Homo sapiens: one gene and its partners. The protein of the gene in region 4 interacts with the protein of the main gene of each other region in a biochemical or structural test. Each region holds a gene or a part of one and is shown on either strand. Other genes may lie near its edges. The genes, in order: FRMPD4, SYNJ2BP, MAST1, HTR2C, CARD11, MAGI2 and PARD3.

Evidence for each region.
Region 1: the proteins of HTR2C (region 4) and FRMPD4 interact in a test that uses a peptide from one of them, tested with the Homo sapiens proteins (one large-scale study listed by IntAct).
Region 2: the proteins of HTR2C (region 4) and SYNJ2BP interact in a test that uses a peptide from one of them, tested with the Homo sapiens proteins (one large-scale study listed by IntAct).
Region 3: the proteins of HTR2C (region 4) and MAST1 interact in a test that uses a peptide from one of them, tested with the Homo sapiens proteins (one large-scale study listed by IntAct).
Region 5: the proteins of HTR2C (region 4) and CARD11 interact in a test that uses a peptide from one of them, tested with the Homo sapiens proteins (one large-scale study listed by IntAct).
Region 6: the proteins of HTR2C (region 4) and MAGI2 interact in a test that uses a peptide from one of them, tested with the Homo sapiens proteins (one large-scale study listed by IntAct).
Region 7: the proteins of HTR2C (region 4) and PARD3 interact in a test that uses a peptide from one of them, tested with the Homo sapiens proteins (one large-scale study listed by IntAct).

Annotation. Positions count from the first base shown.
Region 1 is NC_000023.11:12,141,473-12,144,972, reverse strand, and holds part of FRMPD4 (FERM and PDZ domain-containing protein 4), read right to left. Parts: intron 1-3,500. UniProt on the Homo sapiens protein: Positive regulator of dendritic spine morphogenesis and density. Required for the maintenance of excitatory synaptic transmission. Binds phosphatidylinositol 4,5-bisphosphate.
Region 2 is NC_000014.9:70,365,999-70,369,044, reverse strand, and holds the end of SYNJ2BP (synaptojanin-2-binding protein), read left to right. Parts: 3' UTR 1-2,546; downstream 2,547-3,046. UniProt on the Homo sapiens protein: Regulates endocytosis of activin type 2 receptor kinases through the Ral/RALBP1-dependent pathway and may be involved in suppression of activin-induced signal transduction.
Region 3 is NC_000019.10:12,866,015-12,869,514, reverse strand, and holds part of MAST1 (microtubule-associated serine/threonine-protein kinase 1), read right to left. Parts: coding exon 3,413-3,500; intron 2,863-3,412; coding exon 2,753-2,862; intron 2,042-2,752; coding exon 1,863-2,041; intron 1,786-1,862; coding exon 1,538-1,785; intron 873-1,537; coding exon 666-872; intron 450-665; coding exon 220-449; intron 1-219. UniProt on the Homo sapiens protein: Microtubule-associated protein essential for correct brain development. Appears to link the dystrophin/utrophin network with microtubule filaments via the syntrophins. Phosphorylation of DMD or UTRN may modulate their affinities for associated proteins.
Region 4 is NC_000023.11:114,846,086-114,849,585, forward strand, and holds part of HTR2C (5-hydroxytryptamine receptor 2C isoform a precursor), read left to right. Parts: intron 1-1,917; coding exon 1,918-2,118; intron 2,119-3,500. UniProt on the Homo sapiens protein: G-protein coupled receptor for 5-hydroxytryptamine (serotonin).
Region 5 is NC_000007.14:2,942,868-2,946,367, reverse strand, and holds part of CARD11 (caspase recruitment domain-containing protein 11), read left to right. Parts: intron 1-411; coding exon 412-549; intron 550-1,830; coding exon 1,831-2,156; exon of another isoform or gene 2,157-2,333; intron 2,334-3,500. UniProt on the Homo sapiens protein: Adapter protein that plays a key role in adaptive immune response by transducing the activation of NF-kappa-B downstream of T-cell receptor (TCR) and B-cell receptor (BCR) engagement.
Region 6 is NC_000007.14:78,257,168-78,260,667, forward strand, and holds part of MAGI2 (membrane-associated guanylate kinase, WW and PDZ domain-containing protein 2), read right to left. Parts: intron 1-3,500. UniProt on the Homo sapiens protein: Seems to act as a scaffold molecule at synaptic junctions by assembling neurotransmitter receptors and cell adhesion proteins. Plays a role in nerve growth factor (NGF)-induced recruitment of RAPGEF2 to late endosomes and neurite outgrowth.
Region 7 is NC_000010.11:34,381,797-34,385,296, forward strand, and holds part of PARD3 (partitioning defective 3 homolog), read right to left. Parts: intron 2,459-3,500; coding exon 2,333-2,458; intron 1,127-2,332; coding exon 744-1,126; intron 1-743. UniProt on the Homo sapiens protein: Adapter protein involved in asymmetrical cell division and cell polarization processes. Seems to play a central role in the formation of epithelial tight junctions. Targets the phosphatase PTEN to cell junctions.

The DNA of each region.
Region 1 (3,500 bases), about 100 Mb from region 4:
ATAGAAATGATTGTGTTTTCCTAGCTTTCAAAAAAGACTTTCTAAAATAAAAACTTACTGACATCTATAAAAACCCATTTCAATATCATCATAACTTTGCTTATTGAGCTTAAAGCAGTAAAACAGAGACTCCTTGGAAATACAAGTTGATGACTTTTTAACCATCAATCACCAAATATATATATTATATTTTATATATATAATATATATATACTTCAAATGTAAAAACAGAAATAAAAGTTTATTCTCTGAGACCAAGTCCAAGAGCAGGCTATTTACTTTTAACATGTACATTGTATTCCGTTATATTCAATAAAGAAGTACTGACATGGTAATTGTTCAGCTAAACAAATATGACAATTTGTTTGCAACAAATGTTAGAATGAATTGTATATGACTTCACTCACTAATTATTTAGTATAGACTATTTATCTTATGCCAAATTCTGTAAACCATACTTGAAAATATATTTCTGAAAGAACAGTTCTGGCAGAAAACCCTTCTCATCTCTTTGCCAGGAAAAAAAAAAAAATGGGAATGTTAACTTTGTTATCTAAAACTAAGGCTTAGATTTCTTCAAGATAATTTTCAGAGCTTAAGTACATAATGACCTAAATTACTCAGAAGCAAGGCAGCATACTTTTGATATATGTTTTTGCTGTAAAGAACTAAAGGTAGTCTATGATTTCTCATTATAATGCTCTCAGTCAAATCATAGGAAAGTTAGATTAAACTCAACTCCAAATTGATACAGCCTACCTCCATTCCTCTGACTACAACTAAATCCACTTATCTGGTTTTATTTCCATTTGGAAACAGATTAGTGAAGGTCATTAGCCATTAGGACCAGATGGCTCAAGTGTACTGTAAGGAAATACTAGGCATTCTCCTGTTGACTTGATTATCAGTTCACCAGCACACATTGGTTGAGGCTATACAAGTAGTATCACCCATTCTTTTTCCATACATTTTGAACTGGATATTTATGGAAGGCAAACATCACCTTAACAAGCAACTCTCCAGCTCCCCAAAAATATCAGGTCAACTTAGTGACCAAAGAATAAGCATGCATAATTTTTCCAAGTGCAACAAATTAGTAGGACAATTATGTCCACTTCTAATGGTCAGTTTCCAACAGTTCAAGAAGTAATTTGAGATCAGAAGTTTCAATAAAGATAAGGTCTATATTAACTGGTAATGTGCATTAGTGAATTCAAGTATTTATTATAATATGCTCAATTTGACGTGTGTGCCCGCATGTGTGCTGATAATGATAAAGAAGCGAAAACAGGAAAAGGCATTGTTTAACCCAGGGGTCAGTGAATTCAAGTATTTATTATAATATGCTCGATTTGACATGTGTGTGCCCACATGTGTGCTGCTAATGATAAAGAAGAGAAAACAGGAAAAAGGCATTGTTTAACCCAGGGGTCAGTTAACTTTTTCTGTAAAGAGCCAGAGAGTAAATATTTTAGGCTTTGTAGGCCATAAGGTCTCTGTGGCATCTATTCAACTTTGCTGTTGTCAGGCAAATGCAGCCATAGATAATACATAAATGAATGGACATGTGTTCCAATAAAACTTTATTTATGGACACTGAAATTTTAATTTCATATTATTCTTTTTTTGATATTTTTGAACCATTTAAAAATAAAGAAACCATTCTTTGCTCACAGGCTATGCCATAACAGTCAGCAAGCCAGATTTGGCTCATAGGCCACAGTATGCCAACCCCTGTTTTAGCCTATTCATAATTTTCTTTTCCTGCTATGATTAGCTTTCAAGATTAAAGATCATTTGATGGTAACAGTGGTAGATTTCAGGACGGTATGCTTAAACAAAGATTTTAAACGGTCTTGAGTTTTCTTATTGAGCCAAGTGTGAAACCAGTGGTTTCAAGTTCATTCCTTAAAGATACATTTCTAGTTCACCAATAATGTACATTCTCTTACAGCTAAACTTCCACGGTTAACCTCAAATGAAATAACAAAGTACTAAAGTTGAACAGTGTATGTGTATGTAAAGGGGGAGAATGAACAGCTGGAAGGACCATAAGCAGAAAGTGAGACTTTCCAGGTCATGCATTTAAAGTACAAGTAAGTTTCACTGCAGCTGTCAGTCTGTACCAAATTCTGATAGCAAGAAGGTGAAACTCACTTGCCCCAGACAATAAGAGAGAGAGAGAGAGATGCTTGAAATGGTACAAAGCCTGACCTAGACGCCTTCTTCCCAGAACTGCGAGCGACTAGACTTTCACAGCTTCAAACTAGCAACTCTTGGGAAACTAGAGTTAAATATTCCTAAAACAGGAATCTAGTTCTGTTATGAAACTGTTCATCATTTCACCTCCTGACAGTCACAAAAATCAGCAGAACTTAGAAAGGATTCAGAAGATGAGCAAGTAGCATTTTTAATAAAATTCAAATCCAGAGTCTTTGGGGTTTTTTCATTGCTAGCCTCCAGAGCTCACTATTATCAGCAATATTAATACAATTACTCAGTAAAAATAGGGGATATGGGAAAAACCCTGACCTTTTGCATTACTTCTTTAACTTCCCCTTTTCCCTGGGAAATATTTAATTCTGAATAAGATAAAGGTAAAAGACAGAAGTTTAGTAGTATCTAAATGGACTTGACATAAAAATCTAAGGAAACTATACATATGTATTTTGTATTTTTCCTCAAATATAAGATACTTGTAAGAAAATTAGCATTCTAATATTAGATATTAGTCACTGCTATATACCACAAAATAACCCATGCAACTATAAGAAAATGCAAAGTAAAGCATTCCCCAAATTTACCTACTACTATAAGAAATCATCATATCAACAGTGGGGACTCAATCATTATCATCAAGTCTACCGTTTTGCTTAAAGAAAAGAAGCCAAATCAGGGACTTAATCTATGAACATATCACTCAATTTAATAACATCCCTATGAGTTTTGGATCTCAAATCATCTCCCTCTGGCAAAAGGGGCATAATCATATGTTTTTCTACTGGACTGCATTCTTCTATAAACATTTGAAAGAATGCATCTGCTTTACAAATAAAATAGTCAATACAAAGAGCAGTAACAATAAAAATATATGCCTGTTTTTATACTATTACTGGTTTATAAGGCAATCATCTGTAATGCTCTCATCTACAAGGATGGAAAATAATATAGAACTGTTACCAAGGAAACAGTGAAGTAAAACTGCATGTAAACTATCAAGCAGTTTAAGAACCAGAAAATTAGAAGAACGGGAAAAACCATCTTCAGATAGAACCATGACACACTGTGCCACCCACGAAGGATGCAATCAAGGGTCATAACTCTAACTGATGATGTAAAGGGTGCCAACTACTTACCAGCAATTCCAACACTTGGCAGCAATTTTTTTTTAATGGTACTGGGTTATTGAGGGGCACTGTCAATTCTGATTTTTCCCACGATTAAAAGGGTATAGATTCTGGAAACGAATAGTTAAATGTAGACACTCTAAAAAGTCAAAA
Region 2 (3,046 bases), on a different chromosome or scaffold from region 4:
GCGTGGCATCTCACAATCTGTGTTTTTGTAATCCTTCCAGGTGACTGATTCATGCTAAAGTTTGAGACTCATTGCTCTATGCCAGTCATCATTCCCTTTGCTCAGGTTAGAATCATCTGGAGAGCTTATAAACGTCCCCATGCCCAGGCTGCACACAGATCAATTAAAAGGAACCTCTGAGGGTGGGACTCAAGCAGCAGTAAAATAAAGTTCATTGAGTGATTCTGGTGTGCAGCCGCAGTTGAAAATGTTATATAGCATTTAAACAAGACACTATTTAATTAAACACTATTTAAATTATTAAATTACATACATTGCTTCAGGCAAAACAACAACAACAACAACAACAACAAAAACTTGGGCCTTTAGAGCCCAGCTTCCTGAGCTTCTGCACGAAGTAAGTGGAACATTCATTTCTTCCTGATTTGCTAAGGATTGATCAACCTCCAGCAAAATGTATGATTAGTGAGTGTTTCAGTTGGTGCATCAATTAAATGAGAACCAATCATAGAACATTGAAGCTAAAAAGGACCAGAGAGCTTCTAGGATGAATCTGTCTTAGAGATGAGAAAAATAAAGGCTCAGAGAGGGAAGCTAACTTAACTCTGATCAGACTTAGTTTGTTGCAGAAGTGACCTTTCTGTCTCATATTTATGTCTTGAATATATTCACTACATGAATACACAGACTACCCATTTTATCTTAGTCTACTTCTTTCTTCTCTCTTTGGGCCTGAATAAAGACCAGAACTGATAGACAGCTAAAGGATATTGCAAGCATCATTATTGGAATTGGGAGATTCCACAGAACAATCTGAGAATGATCTCATATCAAATCCAATCAGATGAGTTATTCTGAGACTAATTCCAATAGTTCTAGAGACTTTTTTTTTTATGGTGGACATTGTTTTTATTGTGTAAATAAGCAATTTTTAAAGTATATTTAAAGAAATGAAACATAAGGAAGTGTATAGGCTGTCAGGTATGTGGGGAAGTGAAGTTCATGTAGTTTTCATGTGGAGCCCATACAGATTTTATTATAGTCAATTTTAGTGAAATTTATCGTTGGTCAGATGAAGGTTTTTTTCCTTCATTCAGCAAATAACTAATGACTGCCTACTATGTGCTAGGTGCCGAAGATAGAGAGATAAATAACACTTAGTCACTCTAAGCTGAAATTGCTCAGCATATGAAAGTGGAGGAATATTTGTAGGTGATTTTGATGTTAAAGTATTTTTTTAACATCACCTGGTAGTAGAAGATTGAGTTATGAAGCTGTCTACCTCTCACCTGTAATAGTTTTAGAGTTGGTTGCTATTTTGGTGTAAGTCTTTTTTGCTGTTCCTCTTTTAACTGCAAATCTTTTTGAGACCAGCACTCACATCCAAAAGGGCAATTGTGATAAAAAAGAAGACAGTATTTTAAGGATTCTGATCAGAACCAGATTCTTTTCTTTTCTTTTTTTTTTTTTTTTTTTTTTTTTTGAGACGGAGTCTTGCTCTGTCGCCTAGGCTGGAGTGCAGTGGCACGATCTCAGCTCACTGCAATCTCTGCCGCCCGGGTTCAAGCGATTCTCCTGCCTCAGCCTCCCCAGTAGTTGGGATTACAGGTGTGTGCCACAACGCCTGGCTAATTTTTGTATTTTTAGTAGACACGGGGTTTCAGCATCTTGGCCAGGCTGGTCTTGAATTCCTGACCTCGTGATCCACCCATCTCGGCCTCCCAAAGTGCAGAACCAGATTCTTAACTGCCACAGACTCTTGTATTATGTAATTTATATACAGAACACAAAGCACTTGATTTGCTTAACTGATGTACTTGATGATACTATAAAACCTATATTATGAGAAAGCATTGCTCCTTCAAAGGAATCAAGTGATAGCAAACACTCGGTCCTGTTTCCAGGTTTTCCTCACTGTTCATTTTGCCTTTGTTCTTGCAGGGGGAGAATGAAAGGGGCGAGAGCTAAAGTGTGTTGTCAATGCAAGTCAATCCTTAACCAACAATAATTTACAAAAGAACTTTATATTTGCTGTAATCATTAAATTTAGTTACTAATCCCAGGAAAAGGGTTAGTCCTTCCTCCTAGTTTGTAGATTTGCAAATGGAGATGAATAATTGAATCCTATTTTAATCTTTTATCTGCAGTAATCTGGGCTTCTTATTACCGGATATATTTGCATTTTACCTCCAGGCCATGTTAGTTCTTAGAAGATTATTTTCCTCATGAACCCTGTTTTGTTTTGCTTCCTTTCTGCTTCAATTCTAATGTCACATTGCATACCTGGATGTAAACAGCAGTCAGTTTCTCAGATCAAATAGAGCCCTGTAGCAACTTGGAAGACACAGAAGACACACGGACATAAAACTGTATTTATTATCCAGGGAATGTCACTACGGATTAATTATGTTAATGAGGCCATCAAAATCTATGGTAATCTTTCAGGCTTTGTTGTTTGATACCAGATACAGCAAATGAGATAATAATGTGTCTAATTGTGCCTAGCCAGTATTGGTATTTAATAAAACTTTGTCATTGAATCTTTACAATCTTTTTTCACCTTATTTTGAAGACCGTTGATTAAATATCTCATTTTTTTTTCTTCCAGATGAGGGTTTTTTCCTTCATTCAGCAAATATCTGATAAGTGCTTACTATGTACTAGATATTCTTAGGGTAACACCTCTGACAGAATTGTGGAAAGAGGAAGAAATCTAAATGATCAGTTTGAGGCTTTGACATAGGAGATAAGGAACAGGACATTGATATCCTGTTAACAATTATGGAGCTCTTATCAATATTCCAGCTTTTGTTCTAAGGCCTTTGCATGTATAATATTTATTTAAGCCTCAAAACAACTCTTAAGATAACTGCTGTTGTTATCTTCATTTTATAGATAAAAGGCATAGAGAGGTTAAGTAACTTGCCCAAGTTATACAGCTACTAAGTGCCAAAGCTGTGATTTAAACCCAGGCAATCTGGCTTCAAAACCTGCATTCATAACTATAACACCTTACTGTCTCTACTTCCCATGGTACCAGGCACTG
Region 3 (3,500 bases), on a different chromosome or scaffold from region 4:
TTGCAGTGAGCCGAGATCCTGCCACTGCACTCCGGCCTGGCGACACAGTGAGTCTCCGCCTAAAATAAAAAAGTAAAAGAAAAAAGAAACAGGTTTAGAGAGGGAAGAGGCATAGAGGGTCACAGAGGTGTCTCACCCAGGCTAACTGGTTTGAGCTGGAGGGGCCTTTTCCCCACCACCCTCCACTCTGTGATGGAGACTCCACCCATGAGTACTCACCCAGACAATGTGGTGGACACTATAGACATCCGTGTCACCCATGTAGACACGGATGGCACGCAGTGTGAAGCCATACTTCTTGCCCGAGCGCTGGATGGTGATGGGGGAGCGGAGCCCACTGACAGCTGGTGAGTAGTCCCGGCTGGGTGAGGAGTCCCGTGAGGATGGGTTGGAGGACAGAGATCGTGGAGACATGGGACTAGCAAGGGGTGAACTTCCATGTGGGTCCACTACAGACACACAACCATGGTCAGAAATCAGAACCAAGAAGATAGACATCTCCCTGTATCTGCTCCTCCCTCCTCCCAAGGCAGTGGCAGAGCAGCCTCTCATTGGTCCAGCCTGGAGCCAATCACGGTGGACAGGGAAAATGCAGCATTTTCATTGGTCTGTCCTGCCTCAAATGGGGGGCAGCCCCTCCCCTGCCAGGTGGGGCCCAGCATTACCTGCAGGAATCATGACAGATAAGGCAGTGGCTGAGGCTGATTTGATGACTTTGCCCCCAGTTCGAGAAGGCCTCTTCTCTACTGCCACATCCCCTGACATCTGCTGGTGCCGCGCCCGGCGCAGAACCAAGTCATTGGTAGCCCTTGGGCCTGATGCATCCCCATCCTTCGAGGGTGGGCAGAGGTCACCTGGGCGTGGACGGTCAGCTGCAACAGAAAGCAAGTGTGTTAGGAATTAGTCCAAGGCCAGGGATTTCCCACATACTGTTTCCCTGCCTGGAATGCTCTTTCCACTTTTTACCCTTGATGGATGGTGAGTTTCATCTGAGCAGGTAACCTGCATGCCTCACTGCTCCTCATATAGAGACATAGTCTGTATCGGTCTGTATCACTGACTGACCATGGTATTGGGGTGTTTCTAATGTTAAGAATCCCAAATTGGGCTGGGTGTGGTGGCTCACGACTGTAACCCCAGCACTTTGGTAGGCCAAGGAAGGCAGATCACTTGAGGTCAGGAGTTCGAGACCAGCCTTGCCAACATGAAGAAACCCTGTCTCTACTAAAAATACAAAAATTAGCCGGGGGTAGTGGCGCGCGCCTGTAATCCCAGCTACTCGGGAGGCTGAGGTGCGAGAACCACTTGAACTTGGGAGGTGGAGGTTGCAGTGAGCCGAGATCACGCCACTGCACTCCATCCTGGGTGATGGAGTGAGACTCTGTCTCAAAAAAAAAAAAAAAAAAAAAAATCCCAAATTGCAATGTGAATAGGACCTGAGATCTTTCATAAACAGCACCAGGCTCGTGGGATGCTCACTATATGACCAGTAGGACATTGGGGAAGATTGGGGAAGGCAGCACGATAGGGCACTCACTGGCCTCGGAGTCCCCGGCGCTGGAGGTGCCTTCCCCTTGAGTCTCCTCTTTGGGGGCCCGTGCATCCAGGGATCCCGCGGGGTCGGAGCTGGGCCGGGGAGGCCTGCGCAGCCGGGCCTCATCCTCGTCCTCTTGGGGGGCGCTGAAGCGGCTGGGCTCCAGCAGCGCCGAGAAACGGCGGCGGGCGCCCAAAGGGGGACTGGCCTCTCCCTCCAGGAAACTGGCCTCGGACGCGGAGAATCGCTTGCTGCATGGAGGGGGCGTGGTTATGGAAGACACGCCCCCTTCGACCCCGCCCCCAAACTCCGCCATTCCCCTGCTCACATCTCCGGAGAGCCCCCTCTCCAGGTCTTCTCACGCAGGGTCAGGCCGCCCAGCCCCTCCCGCTTGCCGGCCACCTTCTCCTCGGGGCCCTTGGTGCTCGGCTCCCGCTTGCTGCTCCCTGCAGCTGCTACTGGGGTCTTGGGCTCGTGCTGCGACAGCTGCTCCATGCTGCTATACACCTGTAGGTGGTGGTGGGAGGCAAGTCCAGCCCGGGTTCCACTTTCACTCCGGAGCTAATCAGCTTCCTGGCAGTGGATCCCCCGCAAAACGCACTCCACCCTCCGAGGCCTGGCTCCGCCCAATTGTGCATGATCCCCCAACCTACAATTCTTCAGTTCAGGCCCCACACCACAAAGTTAGGCACTGCGTTTTATTCTAGGCTCTGCCCCGACGATGCCCTGACCAATCTGCTCTCTACACAGCCCCATCTTCCCAGCAACCCCCTTAATTTATGTCTCCTTAGCCCAGGCTAGGCCCTGCACGCCTCTACAAGTTGCTTCTCAAAGCAAGGCCTATGGCTTCTCTGCCCGTTATTAGAAAAAATAAAAATAAATAAATAAAAGCAAGACTTCGCTGGGCTTTACTCCGCCTTCGCTGCTGGCCTCATTCCCACGTCCTGACCCCGCCCCACCCACACCTAGCCCCGCCCCACCATGGCCTCAATCTGCACAACTGTCCTGATTCCTGTTAGATTCCACTCAGTGCCAAAGGCCCGTCCCATAGACTCCCGAACCTGCCTCTTGCGTGGCCTTACCACCTTCCAGACTCCCGCCCCATCAATAACTTCCCGCTCCTGAGACCTTGGGCACCAGGGAACCTGTTTCTCACTGTCTCTCCAAGCCCCATCCCTCCTGGGGTCTCGCCCTGTCCCACACCCAGACTTGGCCCACCTTGCTGAAGCGCGGAGAGCAGGAAGAGAACTGGCGGATTTCCACGGGCTCCTCCTCCGTCGTGTCATCCTCGTCATAGGAGTTCACGTGGTGATACCTGTCTGAGCGGGCTGGGGAGCGGGTATGGGCTGTGACTGAGGGTACGGGGTTCCTCCTCATATCACATCCCCACAGGAGCCCAGTCCTGGTTCAAGACGGGTTTACAAGTCTTCAGGTCAGGCCACGCCCCTGCCTCATTAGTGTATTTAATTTAGGCTCCGCTCCCAGGCAAGGTCCTTGCCCCATTCTCAGTGGCACCGTCTAGCCCCGCCTCCAAAGAGGCCACGCTCCACCTACAGTGCTCTGCACCCTGGCATCACCCCAGGCCATTCTGAGCGCTAGTACCTCTCTCTAGTTCAGTTCCAGGCCCACACTCACAACTCACCCAGGCCAGGCCCCACACCTAGCCCAATCTCAGGTTCTTACCTACATTTCAGCCTGAGCCCCGCCTGTATGTCAGCCCCGCCCCACTTGGCCCCGCCCCCACCAAAATACCACCTTCGCACCTAGGCATCACATCTTGGTACTTAGCCAGGCCCTATCCCAGGCTTTACTTACCCCAGGGTCCCTCTTCCCGGATCCCACCCCTCGACCCAGGTCGTGCCTGGTGTCCCAGCTCACTGTCAAAGTAGCTAGTGTCATCTTCCGACTCTAGGTGGGGGATGAACTCGGCCTTCTGCCTCAGCAGCCCTGTCCAGTCCAGGTCTCG
Region 4 (3,500 bases):
ATGTAAAAATTTCTAAAAACACACATACTACCAAAAGTGACTCAAGGAGAAATAATCTGAAGAGTCATATAAAAAGTAACTACATTGAATCAGTGATCAAATACCTCTCAACAATGAAAGCTCAAGACAAGAAGTTTTCCTTTTGAATTTCACCGAACATTTCAAAAATTAACACCAATTCTTCTCAAACTCTTCTAAAAAATAGAAGATGAAGAAACATTTTGTAATATATTCTATTAGACTGGCATTATCTTAATATCAAAGCCAGCTAAAGACATTACAAGAAAATTATAGATTAGTATTGTTTATTAATATAAATGCAAAAGTCTTCAATAAAATACTAGCAAACTAAATTCAGCACCATATTATATACCCATTACTAAATGGGATTTATCTCAGGGATGCAAGAGGGATTCAACATACAGAAACTAATCAATGTAATGTATCACATTAATAGAATGAAGGTATGCAAACCACATGATTATGTCAATTGATGCAGAAAAAGCATTTGCAAAAGTCCATCACTTTTTTATGATAAAAAAATGTTCAACAAACTAGGAATAAAAGAAAATGTCCTTGACAGGCATTTATAAAAAACAAAAACAAAACCCAGTCAATAGTGAAAGACTGATTTTCCTCTAAGATCAGGGAAAAAAGGCAGAATGCCCAACTTCATTAGTTCTATTTATCATGGTACTGAAAATTCCATGTAGAGAAATTAGGCAAAGAGAGGAAATAAAAGGCAGAGGAAAATTGGAAAAGAATAAATCAAATTATTTCTATTTGCAGAAGACATGATCTTATATATGGAAAATCCCAAAGAGTCAACACAAAACATAGCTCTAATAAATGAATTCAGCAAAGTTGCAGGACATTTGTAGTTCTATACACAGTGATGAACAATCCATGAAAGAATTTAAGAAAACAATTCTATTTACAACAGCTTCCAAAAAAACCTCAATTGATAACAGCATCAGCCACAAAGAAGAATTAAGTATTGATACATGCTACGAAATAGATAAACCTCAAAAACATTAGCTAGGTGAAAGAAGCCAGACCCAAAAAGTCACAAATTGTATGATTCTATTTATATGAAATATCCAAATTAGTTAAATCCATAGACTGGATTAAGAAAATGTGGCACATATACACCATGGAATACTATGCAGCCATAAAAAATGATGAGTTCATGTCCTTTGTAGGGACATGGATGAAATTGGAAATCATCATTCTCAGTAAACTATCGCAAGGACAAAAAACCAAACACTGCATGTTCTCACTCATAGGTGGGAATTGAACAATGAGAACACATGGACACAGGAAGGGGAACATCACACTCTGGGGACTGTTGTGGGGTGGGGGGAGGGGGGAGGGGTAGCATTAGGATATATACCTAATGCTAAATGACGAGTTAATGGGTGCAGCACACCAGCATAGCACATGTATACATATGTAACTAACCTGCACATTGTGCACATGTACCCTAAAACTTAAAGTATAATAATAATTAAAAAAAAAAGATAAAAAGCAAATTAGAGATTGCCAGGAGCTGGTTGATGGGAGAATGGGAAGTAACTGCTTAACGGTATGCAGTTTCCTTTTGGAGTGATGAAATGTTTCTGAACTAGAGACAGATGCTAGTTGCACAATATTGTGAATGTACTAGATGCCATTGGATTGTACACTTTAAAGAGATTAATTTTATGTTGTGTAAATTTTACCTCAATAAAATATATGTCACGCTGAAGGTATCATTATCATGATCACCATCATCATCCCTATAGAAAATAATGCTTCCTAAATTTCACTTTCTTTAAAAGGTTTAGATTATGAGAAAATATAAGCAGACTAAAATTTGAGACTATAGTCAGTACAATTTGGATGACGTGTTCTTGTCTTCTCTCTGTTCTCTTTCAGATTATGTCTGGCCACTACCTAGATATTTGTGCCCCGTCTGGATTTCTTTAGATGTTTTATTTTCAACAGCGTCCATCATGCACCTCTGCGCTATATCGCTGGATCGGTATGTAGCAATACGTAATCCTATTGAGCATAGCCGTTTCAATTCGCGGACTAAGGCCATCATGAAGATTGCTATTGTTTGGGCAATTTCTATAGGTAAATAAAACTTTTTGGCCATAAGAATTGCAGCGGCTATGCTCAATACTTTCGGATTATGTACTGTGAACAACGTACAGACGTCGACTGGTAACATTTGCGTTTGATCGGGTTCTTTTATTTAGTAATTATTCTTAACCTATTTATCTGATATTTAGGTTAACAATAATGAAAGGAATGTAATGTGTATTAATATGTAAATATAAAGTTTCCATTTATGCTGCTAAATTATTTTATGCATTAGTATGCCAATGAATTCTGCAACACAGATACAAAATGTTTGAAATATTTAAAATGCTTTGAAAATGAGAAAGACATAAAGTCTAATTAAAGTCTAAATTTTAAAAATATAACATTTCAATCTTATATTGAAAAGTTACATGTATCCCAGAATATTAACCTTAGTATTTTTATTCTAAATTCCTATCCTTTTCAGTAGAAAAATTAATAATGCAATCTAAATCATCATCAAGTAAATATGTCTAAATTTTTGTTGCTATGACACCTAAAATGTACTATTTTCTCTCAGTTTTAATTGTCTTCTTGAATTCTGGGTATACAAAAAGAAAAAAAAATTTGTTTCTTTAAAGATTTGTAGCAGTTTAAAGGGAAAGAAATGATCATTTATTGCTTATATTTGAGGTATTCATAAATGCCTTAACAGTGCTAATATTAAAGCCAAGAAATTTAAACAATTGGACTTTAGGGGTTTTACTTTCATGTTTTTTTCCTTTTCCAGTTGGTGTAAATAATTTTTCTTCATATTTATGTTTTTGTAAAGATTGAGGTAAAGTGTGCAACAAGATCAAGACTTCTATTTAATCTTCACTAATATCATCTAAATATTTTGACTCTGGGTTTATTGATCAAATACATTTAAGTTTTAAGATTGTTCTATTGTAGATTGTTCTGCCTGTGTATAGCATAGACACCTTTGAATAAAAAGTCGTGAAGCTTGTCCCAAAAGACAAAAATGAATTTACGTAAGTTTGACTTACAAATTCAAGAGTTCACAGATTTTGCCCTAGCCATCACAAAGAGTTCATCTAAAAAGATGCCAGCTTTTATGGTGCTTACAAAGGAAATACACAGACAGAATATTGTTGCATCAGCTTCTAGTAATGAAAGACTGAGTAATTTGCAATGACTCTTGTGCTAAAGGCAAATAAACACATGGATAAAACACTAAAAGCCCTAAGAAGCTAATGAAATAGAAATTGCTATTGGCTAAGATCCAGAAAAAGACAAAAACCCAAGAAAAATGATTATGACTTCTAGTTCACTTTTGCCAATGATGCATTATAAACCTGAAGATATGACTGACAGGTGGAGACGATCATTTCAGACTCGCAAGCAATGGAGGACTAGAGTAGGAATACAGA
Region 5 (3,500 bases), on a different chromosome or scaffold from region 4:
TCTCACCCAAAGATTTGTCTTCCTGCTCTCAATCCCAGAGAACCATATATTATTCCATAATTTTTATCGTGCTTCCAACCTCCTTCAGTCATAGAAGACCTGGTGCCTACGTGGTTCATTTTGGCCCTGGTCAGTTGGGAAACTCTTCAAAACTGGGGCGGCAATTCCATTTATCCTGGTTCTACCAGTTTATTAGAAACAGAAAACTAACGCTCACCAAATCCCTGCGGAGGGCCTGGCACCTTGATTTACGTCATCTGGGCTCCAAGATACAACTCAGAAGTGATAGAATGTGGGGAGACTGTCTTCTTAGAGTTGATTGAAGGACACAAGTCCAGGATGAGACCAGCCACAGAGACTTGCGTTCCATCAGATATGTATTCTCACAGAGTGATCTGGTCTTTCCCCTAGGCCGGCTGTTGGACATTCTACATACCAAGGGGCAAAGGGGCTATGTGGTCTTCTTGGAGAGCCTAGAATTTTATTACCCAGAACTGTACAAACTGGTGACTGGGAAAGAGCCCACTCGGAGATTCTCCACCATTGTGGGTAAGTGCTTTTGCCATTGGGAACATCTGGACTCTAAGAGGAGGGGCGTGTGTGTGTGTGTGTCTGTGTGTGTGTGTGTGTGTGTGTGTGTCCTCAGTAGTGGCATGGTTCTTAAGCTGTGAATCTATGACATATAGAACTGGGGTCTGTCAACCACTTATTTTGCTTGATGATGAAAGGTTAACAGGGGCAAAGGGAAGCAGGAACCAAGAGAAGTGGGTGTTCACGGACCATCCCCCATGAATGGCGCCAGGTGGAACACAAGTTCATTCTACCCCGTAGATCTTGTCCTTGCCTTGCCTGCATTCTTTCTAGTGTCTCATGGGCCAGAGCCCTTGAGCATCTTGCCTTCTTAATCTTCCTTTCTAAACATTCTTGAATCAGTCTTCTCGCCCGCCCCAACACTTCCCACAGTCCAGACTCCCACAACCCCATTAACTCTCCATATCCATTCCCGATCTGTTCCAGTGCTTTCTCCATTCTTCCTCCCCTATTTAAAACCCTTTGGTGGTTTTTCATTGCTTCTTTGTAAAGACCCAGGTCTTGGCCAGGCACAGTGGCTCATGCCTGAAATTCCAACACTTTTGGAGGCTGCAGCCATAGAATTGCTTGAGCCCAGGAGTTCCAGGCTGCAATAAGCTATGATCATGCCCCTGCACTCCAGCCTGGGTAATAGAGCGAGACCCTGTTTTAAAATATAAAAAAAGTCCCAGGTCTTTAATGCAGCCCACAAGGACCCTTCATGATCCAGTCCCTGCTGACACCACCAGCCTCGCCTTTCTCTTCTCTCTCTCTCCTTCGGCCACTTTGGTCTTCGTTCAGTTCCTGAAATATGCCAAGTTCCTCCCTCCTCCCCATATGGCCTTGGCAATGTTGTTCCCCTTTCCTAGAATGCCTTTTCCCACCCGAACTTAACATTTTACCTCAACCATCAGGAGCCTTCTCCAACCCCCTCTGCCCACAAGGCTGGATCTGGGCCCCTGCTACACACTCTCATAGCCCCATCTACCTTTACTTTGTGAAATCCTCACGGTCTGTAATTCTATTTGTGGTATCATTTGATTTTTTTAAATGTGTTTCTCTTATTACACCCTAAGCTCTCCCGGGGCCAAGGCTGTGAGTCTCGCTCACTCTGAATCCCCAGTGCCTCGTGGGCAGAGTGAGTAAAGAGCTTGGCACAACGTTGGTGAGTGAGTGAATGAATGGCACCTGCCCTGCGTCTGGAACCTCCTTTTTCCACTTCCCAGTCCTCAGGCCTGACTGGGTGCCCCCTCTCCACAGTGGAGGAAGGCCACGAGGGCCTCACGCACTTCCTGATGAACGAGGTCATCAAGCTGCAGCAGCAGATGAAGGCCAAGGACCTGCAACGCTGCGAGCTGCTGGCCAGGTTGCGGCAGCTGGAGGATGAGAAGAAGCAGATGACGCTGACGCGCGTGGAGCTGCTAACCTTCCAGGAGCGGTACTACAAGATGAAGGAAGAGCGGGACAGCTACAATGACGAGCTGGTCAAGGTGAAGGACGACAACTACAACTTAGCCATGCGCTACGCACAGCTCAGTGAGGAGAAGAACATGGCGGTCATGAGGAGCCGAGACCTCCAACTCGAGGTGAGGGGTGCCCAAGGGCTACTCCGCCAGGGTGACCCGGGGGAAACAAATGTCACCAGGGCTCAATTCTCCCATAAAGCAGGTGCAGGCACATGCACGTGGTCTGCCGGAGCTTCCTGCCAGCCAGGTGTGGGGGAATGGAGGACACAGGGCCTCTGGGAGTTCTAGGTCCACTATGCACCTGCACGTGTACCCATAGTGCTTAGCGCTACCGGGTAAGCGGCCTACATCCCCTGTGCGCATGGGCAGACATGCGCACAAGGACCGACCCAGTGCGCAGCTTTCCACCACCGGCTCAGTCCCAGATCCACCTTGCACATGCGCATGCAGACCCAGAATGGCTCACTCCGCAAATGAATTAAGGAGATTTACATCTTCTTTTTTCTTTTCTTTTATTTTCCTTTCCTTCTTTTCTTTCTTTCTTTTTCTTTTCTTTTTTTTTTTTTTTTTTTTTTTTTTTTTTGAGACAGGGTCTTCCACTGCCCAGGCTGCAGTGGTGTGATCATGGCTCACTGAAGCCTTGACCTCCTAGACTCAAGTGATCCTCCTGTCTCAGCCTCCAAAGTAGCTGGGACTACAGGTGCCCACCATCACGCCAGGCTATTCTTTCAATTTTTTTGTAGAAAAGGGGTCTCGCTATTTTGCCCAGGCTGATCTGCAACTCCTGGGCTCAAGTGATCTGCCTCCCTTGGCCTTACAAAGTGGTGGGATTACAGGTATGAGCCACTGCACCCGGCCTCGTTCATTCTTTCTGTTTATTGAGTTCCATCGGGTACCAGGCTTTTTGTTTTTGGGTTTTTTGGAGGAGTTTTTTGGACAGAGTCTCACTCTGTCACCCAGGCTGGAGTGCAGTGGTGTGATCACAGCTCACTGTAGCTTTGGCCTTGCAGGCTCAGGTGATCCTCCCACCTTAGCCTCCCAAGTAGCTGGGACTACAGGTACATGCTATGCCAGCTAATTTTTTTCTATTTTTATCCTACCCACCCCCCTTTTTCTATTTTTAGTAAAGACAGGGTTTCACCATGTTGCCCAGGCTGGTCTTGAACTCCTGGGCTCGGGCAATCTGCACACTTGGCCTCCCAAAGTGCTGGGATTACAGGTATAAGCCACCACACCTGGCCCCCAGGCTCTTTTCCAGGGATACATAGCTGAAGACTAAAACCCTTCTGTCGTGGAACTAACATTGTAATCAGAAAACAAATGCATAGATACTTGGTAGAAATGAGTGCTATCAAGAAGAGAAGACAGGGCGTGAGGACAGAACATGAGGATTGCTACTTTAACTAGGGTGTCCAGGAAAGGTCTCTGAGAAGGAGACACATGAAGAGAGATCTGAAGGGATGA
Region 6 (3,500 bases), on a different chromosome or scaffold from region 4:
GTTGACACCTTGGCTCTACTATTTAACAGATACATGATATTGACCAAGTTCCCTGCTTTGAGCCACAGTTCCTCATTTGTAAAGTTGTGAGAATGAAATGACATAATGTAGGAAAAGTACTTGGCATAGTGTATGACACACAGTGCTCAATAAATGTGGACTATTATTAATATGATTGTTGTTAAAATAGGATGGAGGAGATTTGGGTCCCTTGGTTTCAAACAGAAAGTTGCCACAGTTCATCCTCTGATCTTAGATAAACTAATATTTCTGTGGATCAGTTTCAATAAAGGCACTTGTCCTTTCTCCCCAGTGAACTATCACAGATTTTCAGAGGTCTACTGGTTAGAGGCTAACTTTATGATTAGAAATGCTCTGAATGCAAATTATCCATTATAAAATATATTCAGAGAAATATTTTTTCCTGCTTAAAATGCAGAAAATCATGGCTGTTTGAGATAAATGTTTTTTTAAAAATTTCAATTATGTATGAATAACAATTTTATTTTTGGAGAACTATTTTATCATGGATTGGTATTTTTATCTTCACAAACCATAATACTTGAAAATTGAGCTTGCAAATTGAGATTGTGCCTGACTATGCTGAGGAGTATATTAGGGATGAAGAGACATGTTTTCACAGATCTTGAAATAAGCAACTCAACAGACATCAGTTTATCAGAATAATTCTGGAATGGGAGGTACAAATGGCTAGGGATTTCATTCTGAGACATCCTTGCCCAGCAAGCTTGCAAACGTTAAAAATGAAAAACAGAGTTGAACTTTTAGAGTTGACAACTTTTCTGGTCTTTTGTAGGTGTATAACATAAAATGAATAAAACAATTAACAGCATTGTCTTAATTAACAGTCCCTCTTCCCAAATTGACAGAGAGGCCAAGCAGACATTTTCAGGGATCCAGGTTAGGTCTGCCTCTAGAAAATGTCACAACCTATGTGATTGGTCAGATGGAACTTCACTTTTCCATAATGTCTATCAGAGAGGGTACTGATGTGGTGGCTGGAACGTGGGTCCACGGCTCAGAACTGAATTGGAGTGGACATTCCCTCACTGTTATTATAATTCCTCTTCAGACTGTGGCAGCTGGGGATGCTTTGGGAATCGTTTTTAATTGATTCCATTCATCTCAGTGTCCCAGAGAAGTGTCTGATTCAGATAGACTATTTTTCTCTCCTGTTTCTTTTAGTTTTAATGTTATATTTTCTACATTTAAAAGGTTGAAAGAACAACAAATACTTGTATACTAACATCCAACTTAATGATTGGAACATTGCTCATATTAGTTGAATCCCCCTTGGCTAGCACCTCTCCCCCAACTTGCACTCCTTTACAGCCCTTTCCAAGGTAACCATTGCCCTATTTGAGGTTTGTTATTTACATATACCTTTATAATTTATATCATATCTAGGTGTCCGTAAAAACAATATCTCTAAATAGTATCTAATCTCTAAATAATAATAATCCCTGGAAAGTATTTTACATATTTTAAGCCTTTTGTAAATGGTATATATTTTAATATTCTGTAACTTTTCTTAAAATATGTTTGTGATATTTATCTATTTTGATACTTGTGCCTCTAGTTGATTAGTTTTCATTGTAATACAGTATTTAGTGATGGCTATATTACTACTTAATAACATTCATCCATTCTTTTGTTAATGGACACCGGAGTTATGACAAATCTGTGGCTATTGAAAATAACTCTGCTATGAACCCCATGCTGGCACAGACCATGTGCATCTTCAACTTTGTTAGATAGTGGCAAATGGCTGACAAAAGAGGTCACATTGATTTACACTCTGATCGGTAGTGTGTTGAAATTTTCATTGCTTTACATCTGACACAGTACTTCGTATTCTCAGACTTAATTTTTACCAATCTAATGGATGTGATCATAGTTTTGATTTGCATTTCCCAGACTGCCAGTGAAGGTGAGCATCTTTTCATGTTTATTGGCCTTTTGGATTTTCTCTTGGGTATGCCTCATTTCCTCAATTTCCTATTCAGTGAGTTTTTTTTAACTCATTGACTATTTTTTATGTCTACTTTCATTCTTGCTCCAACATTCTTCTTAGGTTCAGGAGGCTGCAAGGTATAGTAGAGATCACATGGGATATGAGGTCAAAAGACTTTGGTCTGAGTTCTAGTTTCATCACTTATTAGCTGTATAACTTTCCCAAACTGGCTTCAATCCTCTGTGACTCAGATTTTTTAGAAGTAATGATGAACAATAGTAATAGCAACTTATTGTTCCATGGGAAATAACGAATGAGATCATACAGGTGAAAGGGTTTCTAAGCTGTAAATTGTTATGCAAAAGATGATTGCTATTTCAGTAATTACTCTTTGTCCTTTGTTATATTCTTCTATAAAATCAGGACAGTTCTACCCAGATATTCCCACCACAGTTACAGTCAAGGATGACTTGAGTATGATTGTGGAAACAATGGGTTTCTGAATGGCCAAGTAAAAGTCAGAGAGGTAACAAATGCCACTTCCTCTAAGGCTCTCCCTAACTTTAATCACTGTTAACAGACTCCCCAGTCCCCAAGCACGCTCTCTCCTTCCCTCTGCTCTGCCAGAATTTCACGGGAAAGAACTAAGGGTTATGTTGAAAGCTCTCAAGTTTCCCTGCCAGGTCTAGAGAGTAGTAGTTTGAATTGTAGTGATTAATGTTACCTATTTTTGAGTTTTAATGTGATCTTGCTATTTAGAAACAGAGTGAGAACTATTTGTGTTTCTTAGTAAGACTGCCTTTTACAATTTATGGATATTTTCCACTAACAGCAATTTTTCAAGTCATCAGGCAAGGATAAAGAACACTGCAACAATATCTTTATGAAGATACGTAGAAGATTTCTGAATGTAAAAGATGAGTGGTCAGTTATCACAGGATAAAACTATATAACAACTTGATGGTACTCAACTGCCCACTTTAAAAAAATATATAGATGTCTAGATAATAAGTCATGCCCAAAACTCTTATAGACGGGGATGTCAGCAAACATTTGCTTGTTCAGATAGAACTTATTGGATAGAATATTAATAGACTGTGCTGTATGAATGTCATTTACATGTCGTGAAATAAAAATATAAGACACCTGGTATATGTCATCTGACGGTGCCATGCCAAGTCCTCAGACAGATTGGGTTTAAGAGCACAGAAAGGGACATCATCAGGAAGACTGGCTCTGGCTCTAACCTGTTGGCCTACTTAAGACGGAGAATTGGAAGAGTCACTTGATCTCCCCATCTCTCAATTTCTTCTTTTATAAAATGGGAATAAAAATATCTCTTACATTTCCTCTTTTGCAGAGCTACTGTGAAAATGAGATCATCCTTGTGAAAATACTTATAATTTTATCAAATTTTTTCTCCATAAAAATAAGAAGATACATTTCTTTTGAAAGCTAAGCATATATTTTCATTACTACATTGCTGGAAAATTTACTTTGTTTGCTAAATGGTCATTCACTTCAG
Region 7 (3,500 bases), on a different chromosome or scaffold from region 4:
CGGCATGTGCCTCTAGTCACAGCACTTGGAAGGCTGACATGGGGTGTTGCGGGCTACGGTGAGCTATGACTGCACCACTGCACTGTAGCCTGGGCAACAAAGAAAGGCCCTGTCTCAAAAAAAAAAAAAAAAAAAAAAAAAAAAAGAAAGAAAAAGAAAAGAGAGGAAAAGAAAAGAAAAAAAAGAAAGGGAAGTAATGCAATAATACAAGAAAACAAAAGACAAGAGTCAATGGCCTGGCTTCTCAGCAACCTACTATAAACTCCTGGCAGCCTCAAACAAATTGGTCCCTCCCCACATCAAATACTGAGATTGACGTGCACTACCTCTAAAGTCCTCCTTGAGGGCTGGACTTATACAGCAAATGGGGCAGTCAAAATGGTCAAATCCTTACTATTGTTCTGCATTTGATATTAATGTCCTGAAGCCATTTTCTTTCACAATCAAAAATTTTACTACAGTAACTGCTATCTTCTTCTCATAGACATAGTCTTATTCTCTGCACTTTTACATTTTAATTTCTACAGAGCAAAATAAACCTGAGACATATAAGAAATACAATTTGAAATATGTTAAAAGGTAAGTAACTTTAAAAAATCTATCAGTTCTTTCACAAAATAATTAGATAAGACTCAGGGTGCTTTGGGTTAGTAGGTTGACTTTTAAAATAAATTCCATTTCTACCCTTGTGTGTTGCTGCTAAGAAAAGAAATTCCACAAAACAAAAACAGGATAGGTCGTACCTTTCTTAAGCTGGATATTAAGCCTCTTGCCTATTTTTTTGGTGTTATAACCACTGCTTACAGTCGTACTAAATACATTCTGAGGTGCCGAGGCTGGAGCGGATGGTGGTTTTCCCGAGGGGTGTGCGCTATGAGGTAGTCTTGAGTGAGAGTCTATCTGCTCAGGCGGGTGGTTCAGTCGGGGTGCTCTCTGCACCGTGTGAAGCCCTGCACTGTTCACACTCCTGTTGTCAATATACTGGCTGTCAGGGCTAAAACGGCTTGAATAGTAATTGTTCTTCTCACTTTGGGATAGTTGTTCATACTGCTCTTTATTTGCTGCAGGAACCACATGGAACCAAATGATGGGTGTACGCATGGCTTGGCGAAACATATGTTGTGCTCTGGGTTTGAGAAAGAATAGAAAATTAGCAAATTAAGACTGGCAGACTAGAAGATATTATGAGCTTAATTAAGTTTACTAATTAAGCAATAAGAACTGACAGGCTGTTGAAATTGAAAAGCAAAATTCTAATAACCCATTTATCAATCAAGTTTGCAGCTCTGATCTATCAATAGCTGTTTCTTCAAATATAAATTTCTCATTCTCTCAATAAAAATAGAAAAATTATCTACAACTACAGATAAAATTCTGTCCTCTCAACTGTAAATCATTAAACATGTTTTAAGTATAACAAGTATTATAATTTCAATAATAGAAACCAAATGGAACATTCTCTCTACAACATTGTCTAATACAACTTGTAGACATTACAAAATACTTCAATTTAAGTTTTCAAAGAAAGACAGAGCTTTATAATTATATTTAGAATATTGGATTGGGTTAGATGTGTATTTAAAATTTTTAAAATACACACACACACACACACACACTTAGAAGACTATAGAAAGTAACTATTAATTATTTATTAAGTTGGTATATGTAAAAATCTCAAGAACAGCAATCCAGGCTCAATAATTCAAAATGTTGACAGCTGTGGGTCACAGTGCACCCATACAACCAGCCTGGGAAGCAGCTCTTTCTCATGCTGGTTCCCTGGTCAGGACCTCAAGTTCTTAAGAGTTCTGTTTGCTCCTGCCTTGTTTTATAAGAACTGGCCAACTGTTATGTTTTTCATTGACTAAGGGCCTGAATCAAGATAAAGTGTATCTGAATACAACCCAATATTGTATCTGAATACAACCCAAGATAAAGTGTATCTGAATACAACCTCAAGCAGATACAAACAGCTTTATCTGCTTGTTTGTATCTAGAGAAACTGTGTGCAGCAAAGGTGGACGGGTGAGTTAAAGTATGATAAAAATGGGCACACTGTCAATTTTCCAAAAGGAGAGGAACCAGCAAAATTGTAAAGTTGAAATGGGGGCCATAATACTTAAGAAGAGCTATATCCATCAGAGGACATTTTGAAATATAGTCTAATGGTATTAATTACTGAGTATGTTTAAATTTTTAAAAGCTAATGGCAGAAAATATTCCTCTCCAGTATACAGACTGAGATCACAGACATGTTTGAAGCATTTCAACTGACTGCACTCTGTCATGCCTAATGCAAGTAAGAACAGAAGTGCAGCGAGCACACACTTACTGTTCAAATCTTCTATTTCGAAGGTCGCCATCATTAATCCTGACAATGCAATCATTCTCACGAAAAAGATTTTCATGTTCAGCTTTACCACCTTTCTCCAATCGTTTTACTAATAACCCCAGGGTTCTGGAACATTAAGAATGCAAATGATTACACATGTAATATCTCCACCATGCACACTGCCTTACCACTTTAATGCTGTTATTATATTTACAAAGATGTCCTTACAAAGGAGCATGTTAAAATGACTATTCATACATTTTTAAATGACAGACAAAAACCACAACGTTAAAATGACATGTAAAAATGCATCCCTTCCATAAATGTAAAAAATCAGTTTCTGGCTGGTCAGTATTATGTTTCTAGAACAAGCTATAACACTCTCTCTGTTTACAAATGCCCCAAACAGAGCCCGCCTAATGGTTGAGTGGGTATTGCAGTGTGGAGGATGGATAAGCATGTATTTTTGAATGGCTTGGGCAATTTTCTGTTTTAAGCCAGCTGGCACGCTAGCTTAAAAGACGACTGCAACTCCCATCTTTCTGTGAAAGTAAAGGTAATGAGGAAAAGCTAACCTCATTGCACTGCAGGTTTGAGAATGATAATAGGAAAGATTTCAGGAATAAAGGAGTTTCCATGCTTTGCATTTGAATTTGATAGTGCTTAGTATTGTGAATTTCAAAACCTGTCAGGTCTCCCAAAAGTAAGTCATTTATTGTCAATATTCCCATTTGGAAAAACAAATGACCCAACAGAAAAACGTCAGTGAGAGGTTCAAATAATGCCAATCACCATTCATCTCTTCCACATATGTACTCACTCAGGTTGAAAGAAAAGTGTGAATGACCTTTGAGAGACCCCCTACTTGCTCTAGAACACTAACTTCATAACTGACAGGACATTCTATACAGACTGGGACAAATAAGAAATACTTCTTTAAATCACAGTATAAGCAACAGGGGTCTTAACCTAGCTCTGATTGCTGTTATTTTTATTTTTTTAGTCTTATTTTATTCTTTTTTGAGATGGAGTTTCGTTCTTGTCGTCCAGGCTGTAGTGCAATAGCATGATCTTGGTTCATTGCAACCTCCACCACCTGGGTTCAAGCGATTCTCCTGCCTCAGCCTCCTGAGTAGCTGGGATCACAGGCATGCGCCACCATGCCCAG